Linked DNA regions of Homo sapiens: region 2 is linked to region 1. Evidence: fine-mapped expression QTL. A gene starts in region 1. The other region holds a variant in brackets. All regions are shown on one strand. Distances are between the middles of the regions.

Region 1 (9,534 bases):
GGGGATGGGTGTATTTACCCAATGCCTGTACTCCTGTTGTATCCAGGAAGTCATTAACTTGCTTTTGATTTTACAGGCTCATAGGTGGAAGGGACTTGCCTTGTCTTACATGAGACTTTGGACTTAGACATTTGAGTTAATGCTGGAATGAGTTAAGACTTTGGTTGTTAAGGGCAGGATTGTGTTTTGAAATGTGAGGACATGAGATCTGGAAGGGGCTGGGGTGGAATGGTATGGTTTGGCTGTGTCCCCACCCAATCTCATCTTGAATTGTAGTTCCCATAATCCCCGCGTATCGTGGGAGGAACCCGATGGGAGGTAACTGAATAAAAGGGGCTGTTACCTCCATGGTGTTTTCGTGATAGTGAGTGAGTTCTCAGGAAATTTGATGGATAAAACCATCAGAAAAGGAGCTTTTCCTCTTTTGCTCGGCATTTCTCCTTGCTGTCACCATGTGAAGAAAGACGTGTTTGCTTCCCCTTCTGCCATGATTTTAAGTTTCCTGAGGCCTCCCCAGCCCTGCAGAACTGCAAGTCAATTAAAATTCTTTCCTTATAAATTACCCAGTCTCAGGTATTTCTTCATAGCAGCATGAGAACAGACTAATACTAATACAAGACTAATATGGATCAGTAAACAAACACTTTCTTCTTTTGGGTGGTAAAGTTGCATATTGTGGGACTATACCATAATTTATAATTTATTTATCTCATACTGTATAAATGGGCACTTAAGAAATTTCCAGTATTTTGCTATTAAAAATTTTGCTGCAAGAACTCAATACACAGGTAATTTCACACACATTTGACAGGGTTTTGAAAAGGATCAAGGCATGGCCAAGGAAAAAAACAGGGCAAGATATAACTGGCAGAGAGAATGACTCAGGCAAAGGCCCAGAGATATAAAATAGAACGTAAGTAGTTCAATATTACTAACATATAAAATCTTAGGTTGGGCTGAGGTGGGCAGATCACCTTAAGTCAGGAGTCTGAGACCAGCCTGGCCAACATGGTGAAACTCCATCTCTACTAAAAATACAAAAATTAGCCAGGCGTGGTGGTGTGTATCTGTAATCCCAGCTACTCGGAAAGCTGAGGCAGGAGAATCACCTAAGCCTGGGAGGTAGAGGCTTCAGTGAGCTGAGACTGCATCACTGCACTCTAGCCTGGGCAACAGAGTGAGCCTCCATCTCAAAAAATAAATAAATAAATAAATCTGAGGTGGGAGAATAGTAGGAGGGGAGAAGGAGAAAAACGATGGAGTGAGATTACTTGGACTCAATCCTGTAATATTTTAATAACAGGCTGAAAGAGATCAGATTTGTGCTTAAAAAAAGACAATTCTATCGAAATAACTTACATTCATACAATGGAATATTATTTAGCAATAAAAAGGAAAAAGTACCAATACATGCCATACCATGGATAAACTTCAAAAACATTATGGTGAGAGTAGCCAGTCAAAAAAGACCACAGATTGCATGATTCCATTTAAATGAATTTCCAGAATAGGCAAATCCACTAACAGAAAGTAGATTAGTGCTTGCCTAGGGCTGGAGAGAGGGAGAAGAGTTAAGGAAAAATGGGAGTGACTAACAGGTATGCAGGTTTCTTTTTTTTTGAGTCAGTGTCTCACTGTCACCCAGGCTGGAGTGCAGTGGCGCAATCTTGGCTCACTGCAATCTCCGCCTCCCGGGTTCATGCGATTCTCCCACCTCAGCCTCCCAAGTAGCTGGGATTACAAGCGCCCGCCACCACACCCAGCTAATTTTTGTACTTTTAGTAGAGACAGGGTTTCACCATGTTGGCCAGGCTGTCTTGAATTCCTGACCTCGGGTGATCCACCCACCTCAGCCACCCAAAGTGCAGAGATTACAGGTGTGAGCCACCATGCCCAGCGGGGGTTTCTTTTTGGGGTGATGACAAAGTTCTAAAATTGTTTGTGGTAATGATTACTTAACTCCATGAATACATTTTAAAAACCACTAAATTGTACATTTTACATGGGTGTTTGTATGATATGTAAATTTATCTCAGCAGAGCTGTTAAAATGAAAAATGACTATTCTGATGGCTGTGTAGTGAATGGATTTGAGAGGACTCAAGATTGGAGGCAGTAGAACCACTTAGGAAATGCAACAATATAGGTGAAAGATGATGAGGGTCTGAATTAAGACACAAGCAGCAGTGACAGAAAGGAAAGATGGATTCAAGAGATATTTGGAAGGTAAGACCAATAGCATTCAGTGATTGACTAGATAAAGGAGTGATGGGAAAAGGGATGAATCCTGAGCTTCTGGTTTGGGCAACAGGATGAGGGACTGTTTTACTATCTATATTTCTACCCATATGAGATAGCAAGTATAAAAAGGGCTGATTTGGGGTAAAAAACTTTTATATCAGATATGTTGAGTTTGAGGTGCCTATAGGACATCAAGATGCAAATGTCTAGTAGATAGCTGTCTTGAGCCACATCAAAGTTAAGAAGAGAAAACTGGGACTGCAGATTTGAGTCATGAGTAAACAGGCTAGTTAAAACAGGCTAGTTGGATGTGATTGCTTGGGGCAAGCATACTAAGTAAGCAAGAAGTGGGCCAAGGATGAAACTCTGGGGAACACTTATATTTTAGGAGCAGGCTAAGAATAAAGATCCAGTGAAGTTGATGGGAAAAGAACAGTCTAATAAGAGAGCTGGAAAACTAGAAGAGAGTAGTTATTACAGCTAAGGGAACAGAGAGTTTCACAAAAAAGGGAGTTTACAGTGATGCAATTGTCAATAGCCAGTTTATGAACTGTTTGCCAGTCCACAAGAAGACTAAAGAGCTTGGACCACAATGTAAATTAACTGCTTCCTTCATTAACAAAATCAAGAAAAAAAAAGAACAGCTGAACAAAACAGTGTATCCTGTGACATAAATGATTGAGGCAGCGCATAACAATACACAACAGAGTGACCAGCAGATATACAGCATTCACTCTTATTTTTGGTGAACAAATGAGACCTTAAAACCTACTGGACTTTTTATAAGCTTGGGAAACTGAAAACAAACAAGGAAAAAAAGAACCTACTGGACTTTAATAAACCCAACATGCCTAATTTTACAATTAGAATTTTCTTTCTTTCTTTTTAAATATAGATGGGGTCTCACTTTGTTGCCTATGCTGGTCTTGAATTCCTGGCCTCTCAAAGTGCTGGAATTATAGGTATGAGCCACCATACCTGGCCCTTAAAATTTTCATGGTGGAACTCTTTTGCACTCTTTGATCAAACTCCTTTGTTTCTTCCACTTCTATTAAAAAAAAAAAAAAACTTTACTGGAGTATGACATATAAAAAGCTGTACATATTTAATGTATACAACCTGAGTTTGGTGACAAGTATATCCCTGTGAAACCATCATCACAATCTACACTATAAACATATCCATCACCTCCAAAAGTTTCCTCCTACCCTAATAAATTTTTCTATTTATCTTCATTTAATATAGTTCCTTTATCCTTAGTTAATAAAGAATGCTAGAGGTCACCCCCTCTCCCCATAAAGTGTTAACTATCTAGAAAGGTCTGCTAATCAAAAACATTTCATTCTTCTCCTCTATCCTGGGAAAAGTATAAAACAGATCAAAGAGGCCAACAATATTTGGTACATTTTACATAACACTTTACACAGATGAGAAGAATGTAGGTTCTAAGCCTATAACTGCTTTACTGAATTTCTCATAGCGGACTTGCAAAAGTTATTCTCTGTGGATTTCTTTTTTCTTGTAAGAAAGCTGATACATTGAAATTTATAAAGCGAAATGTCAAAAGTTCCAGTAAAAAATTATGATTTCTCAGGTATATTTGTCTCTAAATATAAACAGCAAATAAGCAAGCACCTGAATTCCATCTAATCTCTTCATTCTTGTAAAAATAGTAACAGCTGACCCCCTAAGTATGCAGAGAAAGGAAATGTCTGTGTTTGGTGTCAAAAGTTATTGAGCCAACCAAATACAAGAAACCTCTCCCTCCCACAGTTGCAACCACACAAACACAAACTGGTGCAGTGGAAAAAAAATCACTGGGTTAATCAGGTGTTCCAGATCCTAGTTCTGGTACAACATTTAACTAGCTGTGTAACTCTTGGCAAATTTGTTTCCTCATTTATAAAATGAGGAGATGGGGCTGGATGATTACCAAAGAGCTTTCAAGGTGTATCTGTGTTATTAAAATTTCATGGGGGAGTTATTAAGAAAAAATGTTTAATAAGACTCCTTAGGAAGGTAACAGTGAAAAAAAAGTTGAGAATCACTGGTCTAGAAGTGAGAGTATATAGCAGTATCTCATCACCTCAACTCGTTCTAAAAACAAATAAAAGCTTAGTTATTTTCACAAGTTTCTATGTAGGGGCAATCAACATTTTATTGAGCACCTCCTCTCTGTAGTGGACACAGTGATAGATGCCTACGTTGTTTCAAATCCTTTATCTTCACTATTTCACTTAATCCTCACAATTAAGTCAATCATCCTTAATTTACAGATTAGAAGACTGAGGGTCAGATATTACAAATATTTTGTGCAAGGTCTTAAGGCTAAAAGTGACTGCTCGAATAACTAGAATCCAGGTTTGACTCCAAAGCTGATTCTTTCTACTTCACTCTTTTGCTTTTCATTACTATGATATTCACCAAAGTATTACAACTGGTAGACCTGTAATTATGTAAAACACTAAACTTCAACGAGTTTAGTCATCAAAAAGACACTAGATTATTAGGTAATTTTTTTAAAGATCTATCTTAAGTAAACGGGGAGGCTTCTTTGTACAGAAAAGTAGAGTTCAGAAGCCGTGATCCCTGGGATCCGAAAAGACAAAAAACCAGAATCAGCTGAAGGAAGTACTGAGGAATTTTGACATTAGTCTTCGCATATTATGGATTTGCATTCTGGCCGACAAAGATTCTCTAGGCCACCGGTCTCCTCGCTGTTGCAGAATAAACGCTGAGGACCCGCTGCGTCAGCGAGCTGCTCAGCAGAGAAAGGCGAGACCACCAGGGCTTTAGGCCTAGAGAAGCGGAGGCTGTCCTAGGGATCTCAGAGACACCATCACTTTCACTTCCAGCAGCCTCTGGGAAGGCGGTCCCTGTGGGCCTAATCCCTCCCCGGGTCTGTTTACTCACTTTTTTGATATTGGATTTGGAGGCAGGATGAAAGTCTTTCTTGCACATGAAGTTGGCGAAGGATTTCCCCATCTTGGAACTGGAACTAGGGAAAGCAGGGGCTAGATCTGTTAGCAACGTAAACAAACTCAGCCGCCTAACCGGAACTGCGTTTCCAGCAGCAAGGGGGAACTTCCGAGATCAAAGGTGACAGCTTCCGGCAACTGATGCCTCCACTGGCCACTCCTCCCTCCGTCCACCTGTCACTTCGGGTAGCTGGGAGGCCAGGTGAGGGGCGCGCACGGGGGAGGGGCGTGCATAGTTGAGACAGAAACCCGGAAGACCCAACTGTGGCGCGGCACTGCTTGACCGAGGGGCTCCGGAGCCCAGCTGCACCGGCTGCGGTTTGAGCGCCCAGGGCCGGGGTGCGGGGTGGACCGCGGCGGCCCTTCGACCAAAGGTGCTTGAAGCTCGAGCCCATTACTTTCTGTGGACTCTGACTCGAGCTGCAAAAGCTTTTCTGCACTGTTTTTCTCATCTATGTTATGAAGATAATAATTCCGGCCCTAACCGTAGTATGCTTGCGAGAATCCAACAATATGATGTTTCTGAAAGCGCCGGCTGAACTAAGAGCGCGTGAAATAGAATGACAGACAGCTCTGCAAGAACGGAGGCCCTGTCTATTTTGTACCCAGCTGTACGGTACTGGCGCCGAAAGACGTTCAATAAATACTTATTGAATGACGAATACGCGTTAGGAGTTGGTAAAATCTCTCAAGGCTTCACCTCCTCAGTGGGCTAGGTGCAATTCTAACCAGGGGGCAAGTTTCCTTAGCTTTCCCTACGACCCCAGTTAGGCAGCTCAGGTTACTATTGCAGCTTGATGGCCCTTGGGACTCCAGGTTTTTGAGTGGACGTGGCTGCTACTGCAGCAGGTGATCCACCAACCAAGTTCTCTATCAGGGTAATGTTAAGAATAAACCTTGGCCGGGCGCGGTAGCTCACGCCTGTAATCCCAGCACTTTGGGAGGCCAAGGTGGGTGGATCACCTGAGGTCAGGAGTTCAAGACCAGCCTGGCCAACATGGTGAAACCCCGTCTCTACTAAAAACACGAAAAATTAGCCGGGTGTGGTGGCACGCGCCTGTAATCCCAGCTACTCGGGAGGTTGAGGCAGGAGAATCACTTGAACGCGGGAGGCGGAGGTTGCAGTGAGCCAAGACTGCTCCATTGCACTCCAGCCCGGGCAACAAGAGTTAAACTCCATCAAAAAAAAAAAACAAAAAACGAATAAGCCTTTATGAGAAATTTTCTCTCCTACCAAATAATAACAATAACAGCTTTCATGTGAGTATCTACTATGTTCTATGCACTGTGCAAAACACTTTACGTGTTGCCTTATTAAGTTCTCATAACAGCCCATCAAATAGTGTCTTATTTTTCTGATGAGGCAGAAGGCATAGGTAAGAGAGAGATTAAATAGTCTGCCAAAGTTATATAGTGATAGAACTAACTATAAAACACAAATAGAAGGAGATCCAGGACATAAGAGTTGAAATACAGAAAGAAAATAACAGAAGCCATCAAGACATCAGACTTCTCGTCACTGAGGAGAAGAGGAAAACCCTTAAGAGTTTCAGTCTGAAGTTTTTATTTAGTCATTTTCTTTTCTTTTTAAGGAAACATTTATTATATTTAAATTTTGTTTTTAAGTTGCTAGCATCTGCCTGTGTAAAGCCATTTTAAGGTTTTGCCATTATTAAAGGAAAGAAGGAAACTCTGTAAAACAATGTGTCTGTTCTGGCAGCAAAATAAGGACCTTTAGGTGTTCTATTATAAGTGAAGATCTAAGATTTTCCAAGTTACAACTGAAGAGGTAATCTAGATATTAAAGTATATAATTGCGATTTATAAATTAAATATGTGAACTTTCTCCTAGAAATATCAGCAATTTGGAATTATATTGACATATTTTTGTCTGAATCAATGAGTCTGTTTCAAAATTTCAGTCTCATCAGAATTATAATGTGTATTATTTCCCAGCTCAAATAAGACCCCTTCTTCCTTCCTTTGAGGAAGTACTGGGCACGTAAGATTTTTTTCCATAAGACAAGTTCCAGCAAAGAGAATATAAAGATTAGTAAGACATACTCCCAGCCCTCAAGGATCTCATTGTCCAGTAAAGGGATTTATATATACACGAATGTAATGGAATCTAGCCTTTACAACAATAGAGCTAGGTACACGGATTCCCAAATATGGAAATGGTGAAACGAAATTCAGGGAAGACTTTAGGAGAGAAAGGTCTTAGAGAATAAATGTGAACTATACAGTAGAAGAAGGTAGTTCTCATTGCCATTTTCTTACTGAGTTGTAGTACCAGATTGAGTCCCAAGTCATATTCTTACTGATTTTTAGGCTGTAGTATACAAAATTTAAAACTTTAATGAACAGCCAAGCACGGTCACTCATGCCTGTAATCCCAGGGCTTTGGGAGGCAGAAGGGGGAGGATCTCCTGAGCCCAGGAGTTCCAGGCTGCAGTAAGCCCTGATCATACAACTGCACTCCAGCCTGGGTGAAAGAGCTAGACCTTGTCTCCAAAAAATAAAAATAAAAAAATCAAAGCTTTAATGAACATCCTTAATTAGATATGGCAATAATATCCTTTGGTCATTGAGTAAAACTCTTTATTTTTATATACTTAAAAGTGTTCTTTTTATTTTAAAACATCTGTATAATTTTTAGTTAAAAAAAATGGAACCTTTTTCCTGTGACACTTTCGTGGCATTACCTCCAGCAACAGTCGATAACAGGATTATTTTTGGAAAAAATTCAGATAGACTCTATGATGAAGTACAAGAGGTGGTTTATTTTCCTGCTGTAGTTCATGATAACCTGGGAGAACGTCTTAAGGTAGGTGAAATAAATGTTTTGTTAGCAATATGCCTTTTAAAAATATCATAAAGTTATTTCTATACATAGCAATTTGGAAGAAACTGTAGAAGTTAAAATTGAGGAGTTTACATTTGAAAAATAAATGAGTCAGAAATAAACTGTGATCTTTTATTTCAGTGATTCGGAGGACGTTGAAATAACAATAATAAAATTATCCATTGTTTGAATAAATATTTGAATGCTTTCCATATGCAAGCATGTTAGATAGGGCAAGAGATTTAAAGTCAGCTGTCAAGACTCTGTTCCAGGAGCTTAGAGTCTAGTATAGCAATAAGATGTGTATGCATTATACCCCATTATAAAATAGGATGGTTTAAATGCTAAATTTAAGTAACAGTAGCATGCTGTGGCAGCGGAAGAGAATGAACATTTAATTCAGCTTGGAGTTAGCTGGAATTTGATGGACAAAAAGGATTCTGATTCTGAATTGGCTTAGGTTCTACTTGATGTAGAATAGGAAAGTCATCCCAGACTTTAGGAATGACAGTTTTATGACACATCAAAAAAGGTTTATTAGGCCCTATGTTAACACTATCAATATACATTTTATGCAGTCACTTGGTAGTATACACATTAATTAAAGGATCCTTTAAAAACTTATTTTAAAAACCCATTTAATGTGGAACTTAAAATGAGAGCTTCAAATTATGCTATTGTTGCTAATTCATACTTTTTAGATTTTATTTTATTGATATTCTAATATTAAAACATATTAAATATTAGACTTTTTTCTGTATCCTATGCCATATTTTTTTCTTTTGCTAAGACCACTTATTCATCTGTGATACCACTTCCACTTTATTTCTTCATATTTAAATATAGCCTGTCCTGTAAACCAGTGGTTCTCATTCTTTTCATTGCTGTGGGCATACCTAATGGTTGACTTCAAAATGTGATGTGAGATTCCTATGACAAAACTCTTGTATTCGAAGGCTACCATGTGAGTAATTATATCACTAATCAAGAAACACTGGATATTGAGGTTGAGAACTACTTCCTTAAGCTTCAACTCACACATCTACAAAAATGTTTCAAGATATTACAGCTAGAGACCATCTTTCTCCTGAGCTCCAATAGCACCTTGTCTTCACTTCATGACCCTAATACTTTATACTTTATTTTATCTTAATGTAGAAGTTTTAGTTTCTCAAAAGTGAGATCTTTATCTGATTCATCTTTGTAACTAACATATCTCTTGGCAGAATGTTTTATAATAGGAAATGCTCAGCAAATATTTGAATGAATAAATATTTTAGGGTTATTCTGAATATGTTTTAAGGGTAATGCCTTTATTATTGAAAATTTCAATTTACTTATATTTCCTTTACCTCTTTCATAACAGTTTTGTCTTCTGACTGATTTTTTTAAATTCTGGATTTTGATAACTTTTCTGGTTTTGTGGTTCTTGCTATGACTTTTTTTTTTTTTTTTTTACAGTGTACATATA
Region 2 (9,913 bases), 61 kb after region 1:
TGTCAACTCTAAAAATTCTAATTTGCCCATGGTTTAATTTCCTTCAGGCTTTATTTTAGGCTTAGGGATGGCACTAAATTGTATGATTAGATGAAGTCCCTATATAATGGCTCTCATTCTATATAATTTTTATAAAATATGATCAGAAAATCCAAGCCCCTACAATTTAAGAGAATTTTCAATGATCAACTTTTTGTTTGTTTATTTTTGAGACAGGGTCTTGCTCTGTTGCTCAGACATGATCATGGCCTATTGCAGCTGCAACCTCCTGGGCTCAAGCGATCCTCCCACCCCAGCCTCCTGGGTAGCTGGGATTACAGGCATGAGCCACTGCATTCAGCTAATTTTTTTGATTCTTTGTAGAGATAGGGTCTGGCTATGTTGCCCAGGCTGGTCTTGAACTCCTGGGCTCAAGCACGATCCTCTTGCCTTTGCCTCCCAAAGTGGTGGGATTACAGGAGTGAGCCACCACGCTCAGGCGAGAATCAACATTATTAATGAAGAAAATGACAGATAAGCAAAGCCTAAGGAGATTTGGGGAGGGAAAAAGAAATTTGCCAAATCAGATTACATGTTGAATTTGTTAATGGATTTTACTACTAGGTATATTGTGTAGGGAGATAACAATAAGGAGGAAAACCTTGGGAATTCTGATGTAAAGAAACGATTTTAGAAAAAAAGCAGACAGATAAAACAAAGACAGTGTAACTGCCAGAAAGGGTTTCTTGTAAAAGAAAAAAAAGTCAATGAATGTTTCATATCTGATATGTTTTCACTACTTTTTATGGAAATGTGAATTCTATTATTATTTAAGATTCATTCCTTGCCAGCAGATAGCCAAATATAAATCCCATCTGAATAACAATAATTACTACTGCTACTACATATTTTAATGACCATTTACTATGTATACCACATACTGTGCTAAGTGATTTGCATACATTGTTTTCTATAATCCTTACATTTCTTATATAAAAACATAATGCCTTTAGCAATAATACAGTTGACATAGGCCTTATCAAAAAGAGCATTTTTGGGGGTTTCCCTTTTTAGTTTGATTATAAATAAGTATAATCAACGAAAAATGCACTGCAATTCCACATAAGTATGTTCGGTTGTTTTGAATAATTTGAAATTTAGGCCACAAATGTAATTCAGCCTCTTAGTCAAAAGGTTATTACTTTTTTTTTCCCCCTAGATGGAGTCTTGCTCTGTCACCTAGGTTGCAGTGCAGTGGCGTGATCTTGGCTCACTGCAACCTCCGCCTCCTGTGTTCAAGCAATTCTCCTGCCTCAGCCTCCCAAGTAGCTGGGATTACAGTTGGGTGGGATTACCACCACACCCAACTAATTTTTGTATTTTCAGTAGAGACGGGGTTTCACCATGTTGGCCAGGCTGGTCTCGAACTCCTGACCTTGTGATCCACCCGCCTCGGCCTCCCAAAGTGCTGGGATTACAGGCGTGAGCCACCTTGTCTGGCCAAGAGGTTATTACTTTTAAAGGTGTTTGTTCCTTATTTTATAAGAATGGCCATATTTAAAGCATAAAGATTCAAAATATAATTAAGAACTAATTAATTAGTCCTGGTCCTAGGGGATGAGAATGGGGGAAAAGTCTGTTTCTAAAACAAGAAAAAAGCTTCCCTCTCTCCACCTCCCACCAAAATGCCCTTTAGGGCAAACTTCCTGGATTTGTCACTTGGGTTAAATTTATTGGAAAATGTGTGTATGACACTACCTATTATCACTTTGTGAGAACTTTATTTTTTAAAGTGAGTATTCTGTCTATGCACAATTATTCCCTATTAGCACTTCTTTGCTCTTAATTGAGGATCTATATTCTTGATGTTTGTAACTTCTATAGATATTCTATGTAGAGTTCTTTTGAGGGATAAGAATAAGGAATCTTCTGGCCGGGTGTGGTAGCTCACGCCTGTAATCCCAGCACTTTGGGAGGCCGAGGCAGGCAGATCACGAGGTCAGGAGATCGAGACCATCCTGGCTAACACAGTGAAACTCCGTCTCTACTAAAAATACAAAAAATTAGCTGGGCATGGTGGTGGGCGCCTGTAGTCCCAGCTACTCAGGAGGCTGAGGCAGGAGAATGGCGTGAACCTGGGAGGCACAGCTTGCAGTGAGCCAAGATAGCGCCACTGCACTCCAGCCTGGGTGACAGAGCAAGACTCCGTCTCAAAAAAAAGAAAAAAAAAAAAAAGAATAAGGAATCTTCTGTCCCTTAATCCCATCCTCATAGTCCAGAGGCACTTACTTTTCTCAAACGAAGGAATCACAGGCTCACTGGTGCTTGTGTTTGCTATTGGCTCTATTGATGGGCAGTGTAATTCACCATTTCCCATGGAGCAGGAGCAGCAACCTATATCAATCAAATAGTATGTGAGAGTAGAGCCCAACCACAACAGAAATGGACAATTTTAAGAAATGCCAAAGAAAACAAAACAAAATCCACTCACACACACTTCCCATGTAGCCTCAATAGTTTTCACATGGTATCTATCCAAAAGTATTCAAATGTTCTCACTCATATACAAAATAAAAAAAACTTAATCTCATAGAAGCACTGAATGTGGCCAGGCATGGTAGCTTACACCTGTTGCTTCAGGAGGCTGAGGTGGCAGGATCACTTAAGGCTAGGATTTTGTTTTGTTTTGTTCTGTTTTTTTGTTTTTTGAGGTGGAGTCTCACTCTGTTGCCCAGGCTGGAGTGCAGTGGCGCAATCTCGGCTCACTGCAACCTCCGCCTCCTGGGTTCAAGCGATTGTCCCGCCTCAGCTTCCGAGTAGCTGGGATTACAGGCACCTGCCACCAGGCCCAGCTAATTTTTGAATTTTTAGTAGAGACAGGGTTTCACCATGCTGGCCAGGCTGGTCTAGAACTCCCGACCTCAGGCGATCTGCCCGCCTCGGCCTCCCAAAGTGCTGGGATTACAAGTGTGAGCCACCATGCCCAGCCGAGGCTAGGAACCTAAGATCAGCCTGGGTAATACAGCAAGACTCTGTCTTTACAAAAAGCTTTTTAAAAAATAGCTGGGCATGCTGGCATATGGCTATAGTACAGCTTCTTGGGAGGATGAGGTGGGAGGACTGCTTGAGTCCAGGAGTTTGAGATTACAGGGAGCAGTCACGCTCCAGCCTGGGGAAAGAAGGAAGGAAGGAAGGAAGGAGGGAGGGAAGAAGGGAAGGAGGGAAGGAGGGAGGGAGGGAAGGAAGGGAAAGGAAGGAAAGGAAAGGAAGGGAAGAAAGGGAAGGGAAGGAAGGAAAAGGAAGGAAGGGAGAGGAAGGAAGGGAAAGGAAGGAAAGGGAAGGAAAGGGAAGGAAGGGAAGGGAAGGAAGGGAAAGGAAGGAAAAGAAAGGAAGGAAAAGGAAGGAAGGGAAGGAAGGGAAAGGAAGGAAGAGAAGGAAGGGAAAGGAAGGAAGGATGAGTAGTGGGTACCGGATACTTGGGCAGGTAGGGGGTGGCAGGGATGGGGTCAACAGGTACAAAGTTACATTAGAATAAGTTCTAGTGCCCTATCATACAGTATGGTGGCTATAGTCAACAAAGATACTGTACATCTCAAAATAGAAGAGAGGATTTTGTATGTTCCTACAACAAAGAAATTATACATTTTGAAGTGATAGATATGCTAATTACCCTGATTTGATCATTACACAATGATCTCCAGCCTGGGCAACAGAGCGAGACTCCATCTCAAAAAAATAAAAATAAAAATAACAACAACAACAACAACAAAAACACAAACAAATGACCAAACAGAGAAATTAGTGAGCTTCGGTTTTAAAGGCCCTGAAGAGAAGTGATAACATGAGTGCCGAGTGCTGGACGGACCAAAGAATGGAAGGTTCACTGGGTAGCTCAGGCAGCTGCAGGGAGAGGTGGCAGAATAGGCTCGGAGAGGGAATATGGCTGGCAGTGGAAGGGCTTGGGCACTACGTGCAGCGCTTTGGGCATCACGGGCACTGCAAGGCCCTTGCAGCCTCTGAAGCAGGAGCCTGATGTGGCCAGAACTCCGTGAGGAAGGTTAATTTGGCCATTTCCCTTATAAAACAGACTGGACCAGAGTGACAAGAAACAGGAAGTTCAGTTAGGAGGGAATTACAAGAATCCAGCAGAGAGACTGGAGGCCCAAGTCGGGAGATGGGAGGTCAGGGGGAGGAGGGGGACCCTGCAGAGGGAGAACTCCACGCCCTGAATGGCTAATTCACCTCAAGGGGAAACAGCAGAGATGTTGCTGAGCTGGGAAGTTCTAAAGAATGATGGAACCACTAAAAGAAAGATAATTGTTTGTTTAAAAAGCTCCAGTACCTTTGACAAAGAGAACAAGTGCTGTCCACGTATTCAGAAAGAGACGTAAATAATTTTTTATTTTTTTTTTAGATGAAGTTTCGCTCTGTCACCCAGGCTGGAGTGCAGTGGCACAATCTTGGCTCACTGCAACCTCTGCCTCCCAGGTTCAAGCGATTCTCATGCCTCAGCCTCCCGAGTAGCTGGGTCTACAGGCGTCTGCCACCACAGCCTGGCAAATTCTTGTATTTTTAGTAGAGACGGGGTTTCACCATGTTGGCCAGGCTGGTCTCAAACACCTGACCTCAAGTGATCTGCTTGCCTTGGCTTCCCAAAGTTCTGGGATTACAGGTGTGAGCCACCACGCCTGGCTGAGATATAAATAATATATGTGTAGACAGCAGGAAATCTGGGATTGGATCTGTATAAAGGGGTCAGGTTAGAGATGCAACATTAGGAACAAAGTACAAAGGGTTCACATTAAAGCCATGGGAACTTACCTATTTCCTGTGACCCAGGAATTACCATCCTAGGTATAATTTTTTTTTTTTTTTGAGACAGTGTCTC[G/T]CTCCGTTTCCCAGGCCAGAGTGCAGTGGTGCACTCTTGGCTCACTGCAGCCTCTGCTTTCCAGGCTCTGGTGATCCTCCCACCTCAGCCTCCTGAGTAGCTCGGACTACAGGCACATGCTACCATGCCTAGCTAATTTTTTATTTTTTGTAGAGATGGGTTTTGCCATGTTGCCCAGGCTGGTCTCCAACTCCTGAGCTTAGGCAATTCACCTGCCTCAGCCTCCCAAAGTGCTAGAATTACAGGTGTGAAACACTGCACTCAGCAACATCCTAGGTATAATCTTGATGTATCTTGATGTATACTCAAGGAGATGTGAATAAAGCTGTACATTACAGCATTGTTTCTAATAGCAAAATATTTTAAAGCAACTTAATCCATCAATAAGGAAATTAATAAATAAAATTTGGTATATGCATATCATTGATTACATCTACAAAATGAATTCAAAAATATTGAGTGCAAGAAGACAACTACAGTATAAGATTTATATAAAAATGTAAAAGCATATAAAAATACTATATATTGTTGATGGAAAACCACACATATTGTAAAAGTATAGTAAAATTGTGCTCTGGAAGGATACAATCCAAATTCATAATAGTGGTTACTTCTGGAGTTAACAGGAATGAAAGATTCTAACAAACATTCTGACTTTATTGGTAAGTTTTATTTCTTTTAAAAAAGAAAACTGGGCCAGGCGCAGTGGCTCATGCCTGTATTCCCAGCACTTTGGGAGGCTGACGCAGGCAGATCACTTGAGGTCAGAAGTTCGAGACCAGCCTGGCCAACATGGTGAAAACCCACCTCTACTAAAAATACAAAAATTAGCCAGGCATGGTGGCACACACCTGTAGACCCGGCTACTTGGGAAGCTGAAGAGGGAGGATTACTTGAACCCAGGAGGTGGAAGCTGCAGTGTGCCAAGACTGCTCCACTGCGCTCCAGCCTGAGAGACAGAGAAAGACTTTGTTTCAAAAGAAGAGAAGAGAAAGACTTTGTTTCAAAAGAAGAGAAGAAGAGAAGAGAAGCACCATACAATAAATAAGTTAATATATTTGATTACAAATCAAGACACAAAGAAATCTCAGTCCTGATAGGCTTAGGCAAATACTGAAGTCCTGTCTTAGACTTTTTTTGAGACAGAGTCTTGCTCTGTCACCCAGACTGGAATGCAGTGGCACGATCTCAGCTCACTGCAACCTCTGCCTCCCTGGTTCAAGCGATTCTTCTGCCTCAGCCTCTGGAGTAGCTGGGATTACAGGCACCCGCCACCACACCTAGCTAATTTTTGTATTTTTAGTAGAGATGGTGTTTCACCATGTTAGCCAGGCTGATCTCAAACTCCTGACCTTGTGATCCGCCCACCTCAGCCTCCCAAAGTTCTGGGATTAGAGGTGTGAGCCACCGCACCAGGCCTTGACTTTTTTTTTAAAGACAGGATCACGTCTATTGCCCAGGCTGGATTGCTGTGGCGTGACCATGGCTCACTGCAGCTTCGACCTCCTGGGCTCAAGCAATCCTCCTGCCTCAGCCTCCTGAGTAGCTAGGACTACAGGTGTGTACCACCACATCCAGCTAATTTTTTATTTTTTGTAGAGTCAGGGTCTCACTATGTTGCCCAGGCTGGTCTTGAACTCCTGGGCTCAAGCAATCCTTCCAAAGTGCTGGGGTTACAGGTGTGAGCAACCATACCCAGCTTTGTCCTAGACTTTTAAAAGCCAGATGCAAAAATTCAGGATTGGAGAGAAACTGTTCAGTAATGTACTCGGGGTGGGAGGCAGGTTTTTAGTTGCTCATAAATTCAAGATGAAATCATCAGAATAAGTTAATGCAATGTTAGGCAGAATTAAAAGTTTCTTTTCTAAGTAAGGACAGGAATGATTCTCTTATTCTTCACTCAGTCAACAAGCATTCATCAAATATTGAATGCTCACTGTGTCCTAGGACCATGGTAACTGGAATGTTATATTCAGATCTAAGCATCCCATTTTAAGAGGTACACTGAGAAACTAAAATGAATCCTTGGTGTCTCATGCATCTCAAACTTAGAAGGGTCAAATTGAACTCATTATCTTCCCCTACATATTCTGTTCTCTGTGAATTCTTCTTAGGTAATACCCACAATTATACATTCACTTAAACTAGATTTCTGGAAGTTGTTCTCAGTTTCTCTCTTAGCCCTCACCCAGCTTCTAATCAAGTACCAAACCCTGTCAATACAACTTTGCCTGAGTTTGGCCTCTCCTGTTTATCCAATACCTACTGCCTTAGTATAGGCCCCAAAGACTCAACTCTGCCATTATAGCATGAAGGTAGCCATAGATGATATATAAATGAATGAGCATGGCTATGTTTCAATAAAATTATGGACATGAAATTAAAATTTCATGTAGTTTTTAAGAGTCACGAAGTATTTGTCTTCTTTTAATTTTTCTTCAACCCTTTAAAAATGTAAAAAACATTTTTAGGCTGGGTGCAGTGGCTCACACCTGTAATCCCAGCACATTGGGAGGCCGAGGCGGGTGGATCACCTGAGGTCAGGAGTTCTAGACCAGCCTGACCAATATGGTGAAACCCCATCTCTACTAAAAATACAAAAATTAGCCAGGCGTGGTGGCGTGCGACTGTAGTCTCAGCTACTGGGGAGGCTGAGACAGGCGAATTGCTTGAACCCAGGAGGTAGAGGTTACGGTGAGCCAAGGGTACTGCACTCCACCCTGGGTAACAGAGCGAGACTCTGTGGCAAAAATAAATAAATAAACAAACAAAGAAAAAAAACATTTTTAGCTGGTGGACCATACAAAAACAGGTGGTGGGCCAGATTTGGCCTATGGACTATAGTTTGCCCAAAACTGACTTACATCATTAATCTGGCTTTAAACAGGCCTCCTTTAGTTCATATTATTGATGGTGCTTGCCTGATACAATATTGTTAAATTAACTTATGTATGTGCTTCGTTTCCTAGTTAGGGCCTTCCTTCAGTTGTTACTTTTTTCTATATTCTCAGGTCCAGGGAAGTTTTAGGATTTAACAAAAGTGTATACTCACAATAAGACTTATAAACAAAAATCTAATGAATAATTTTACAAGCAAGTTTGTTGACTATGATTCAAATTCTTCATTTGACAAGCACTCATGATATTCAAACTAGTTCAAGGAAGTTTCCCATAAACAAAACATTTAGGATACATGCTATAAAGGCATGTAGCAGTTTCTTTATATTTAAAGATCAGGCTGGCTCATGCCTGTAATCCCAGCACTGTGGGAGGCCGAGGCGGGTGAATCGCCTGAGCTCAGCAGGTCGAGACCAGCCTGGGCAACATGGCGAAACCCCATCTCTACTAAAAATACAAAAATTAGCAGGGCATGGTGGCAGGCACCTGTAGTCCTAGCTACTCTGGAGGCTCAGGTGGCAGAATCGCTTAAACACAGGAGGCGGAGGTTGCAGTGAGCTGAGATCATGCCACTGCACTCCAGCCGGGATGATAGAGCAAGATTCTGTCTCAAATAAATAAAAATAAAATTAAAAAGATCATACTTGTTTCTGGAATAGAGCTTGTAAAAAGTTCTGGTTCATTTACTGGTGCTGGACTCTCCTCAAAAGCAGTATTTCCAGGCTCCACCACTTTGTGGCTCTGAGACTGATCGAAACCTTCATAGCTTCCTGCTTGGGCAGTCTGGTTCATGCACATGAGGGATATGCCAGCTATCAGGATGCTGCAGAACAGGGTGACTGCTGTGGTGATCATCTGCCGACATGAAAAAAAGATATCAGGCCACTTTTCACAACTTCATCTTGATAATCTTAGGGCACATTTTTTTTTTTTTTTTTTTTTTTTGAGATGGAGTCTTGCTCTGTCGCCCAGGCTGGAGTGCAGTGACACAATCTCGGCTCACTGCAACCTCTTCCTCCCAGGTTCACGCCATTCTCCTGCCTCAGCCTCCCAAGTAGCTGGGAATACAGGCGCCCGCCACCACAACCCAGCTAATTTTTTGTATTTTTTAGTAGAGACAGGGTTTCACCGTGTTAGCCAGGATGGTCTCAATCTTCTGATCTCGTGACCCACCCGCCTCGGCCTCCCAAACTGCTGGGATTACAGGTGTAAGCCACCGCACCCAGCCATCTTAGGGCACGTTTTTGATGGACAATATATCTCCACAGTTTTAAATACTCTAGAACAGTAGCTCTTTTAAAAAGGTAAGTGTATATAAGGAATGTAAGTTACTTGGAGAGAAATTAGGGTTTGCTTGTAATTACACAAGGTTTTAGATGCTTCTTTCATGTATAACAATTGGTTACCAACACAGCCACTGGTTTCCTTTACAAGGAATCTAAATGATTTCTCTCCGATGTTTTCTTTACTCCTGTTTCTGCTCACTTCCACGTATAATTCACGCATACTTCAGTCACTAAGATGTTTTTATGGTAATGATATTAAAAATAATTATAGCTAATATTTATTGAGCACTAACCAGATGCCAAGACTACTCTAAATCTTTTATATGTATAATCTTATTTATTCTCACAAAAACACAATAAAATCCAAAATTGCAAAACAGAAAAAAAGAGTAAGAAATCAAAATTATGTGGAGAGGCTTTTTAAAAACACATCTTTGGACTCCACTCCTAAAGAATTCTGCAGGTCCCACAAGCCACCTACTCTATAGCTTTTCAAGAATATTTTTCCTAGATACGTTTTGTCCTGAAATTTATATTTATGATAGGATTAAGAGTCAAGAATTTGACCTTTATTATTACTGCTAACTTATTAAATGGTTTTAAATTAATCACTCTTTTCTCCAGCACAGGAAACACAATTCCTAAGTGTGATTAAGAACATTCAATAAGTTTTAAGCATTTAGAAATCTTCAGCTAAAAATGGACTTAGACATGTAAAATGTTCATGTTCTAGATGAGACAAAGTGATATAGGATCACCAATCTGATATGCAATAAATTGAAATAGATTTTCAAAGTTAATTTTAATATAAGTCTAGCAAGGCACATAACGAGCTAAAAAGAGACATTCTCAAGAACAGAAC

Which allele goes with the higher level. Alleles are on the strand shown, and positions count from the first base shown. SD is a standard deviation of normalised expression in the study named.
As copies of G replace T in region 2, the expression in stomach of the gene that starts at base 5,315 in region 1 goes down (small effect, 0.21 SD a copy in GTEx).

Evidence for each region. PIP is the estimated chance that this variant, and not a neighbour inherited with it, causes the effect.
Region 2: its variant is the best candidate, but not a certain one, in a credible set for the expression of CIRSR in stomach (GTEx, PIP 0.53).

What each region holds. Positions count from the first base shown.
Region 1 is chr2:174,390,398-174,399,931 of GRCh38, forward strand. It overlaps CIRSR (corepressor of RBPJ and splicing regulator), which reads right to left and starts at 5,315. Exons shown (of 10, transcript NM_004882.4): 1 at 5,154-5,315. The coding sequence starts at 5,225. It overlaps SCRN3 (secernin 3), which reads left to right and starts at 5,333. Exons shown (of 8, transcript NM_024583.5): 1 at 5,333-5,420; 2 at 7,878-8,045; 3 at 9,525-9,534. The coding sequence starts at 7,887. RefSeq lists a silencer at 1,663-1,827 and enhancers at 5,214-5,263, 5,761-6,261.
Region 2 is chr2:174,451,469-174,461,381 of GRCh38, forward strand. It overlaps GPR155 (G protein-coupled receptor 155), which reads right to left. Exons shown (of 16, transcript NM_152529.7): 10 at 8,410-8,620; 11 at 2,269-2,373. Among named protein-coding and RNA genes, the nearest start is that of GPR155, 31 kb to the right of the region's middle. The variant G/T (reference allele first, on the strand shown) is at 4,868.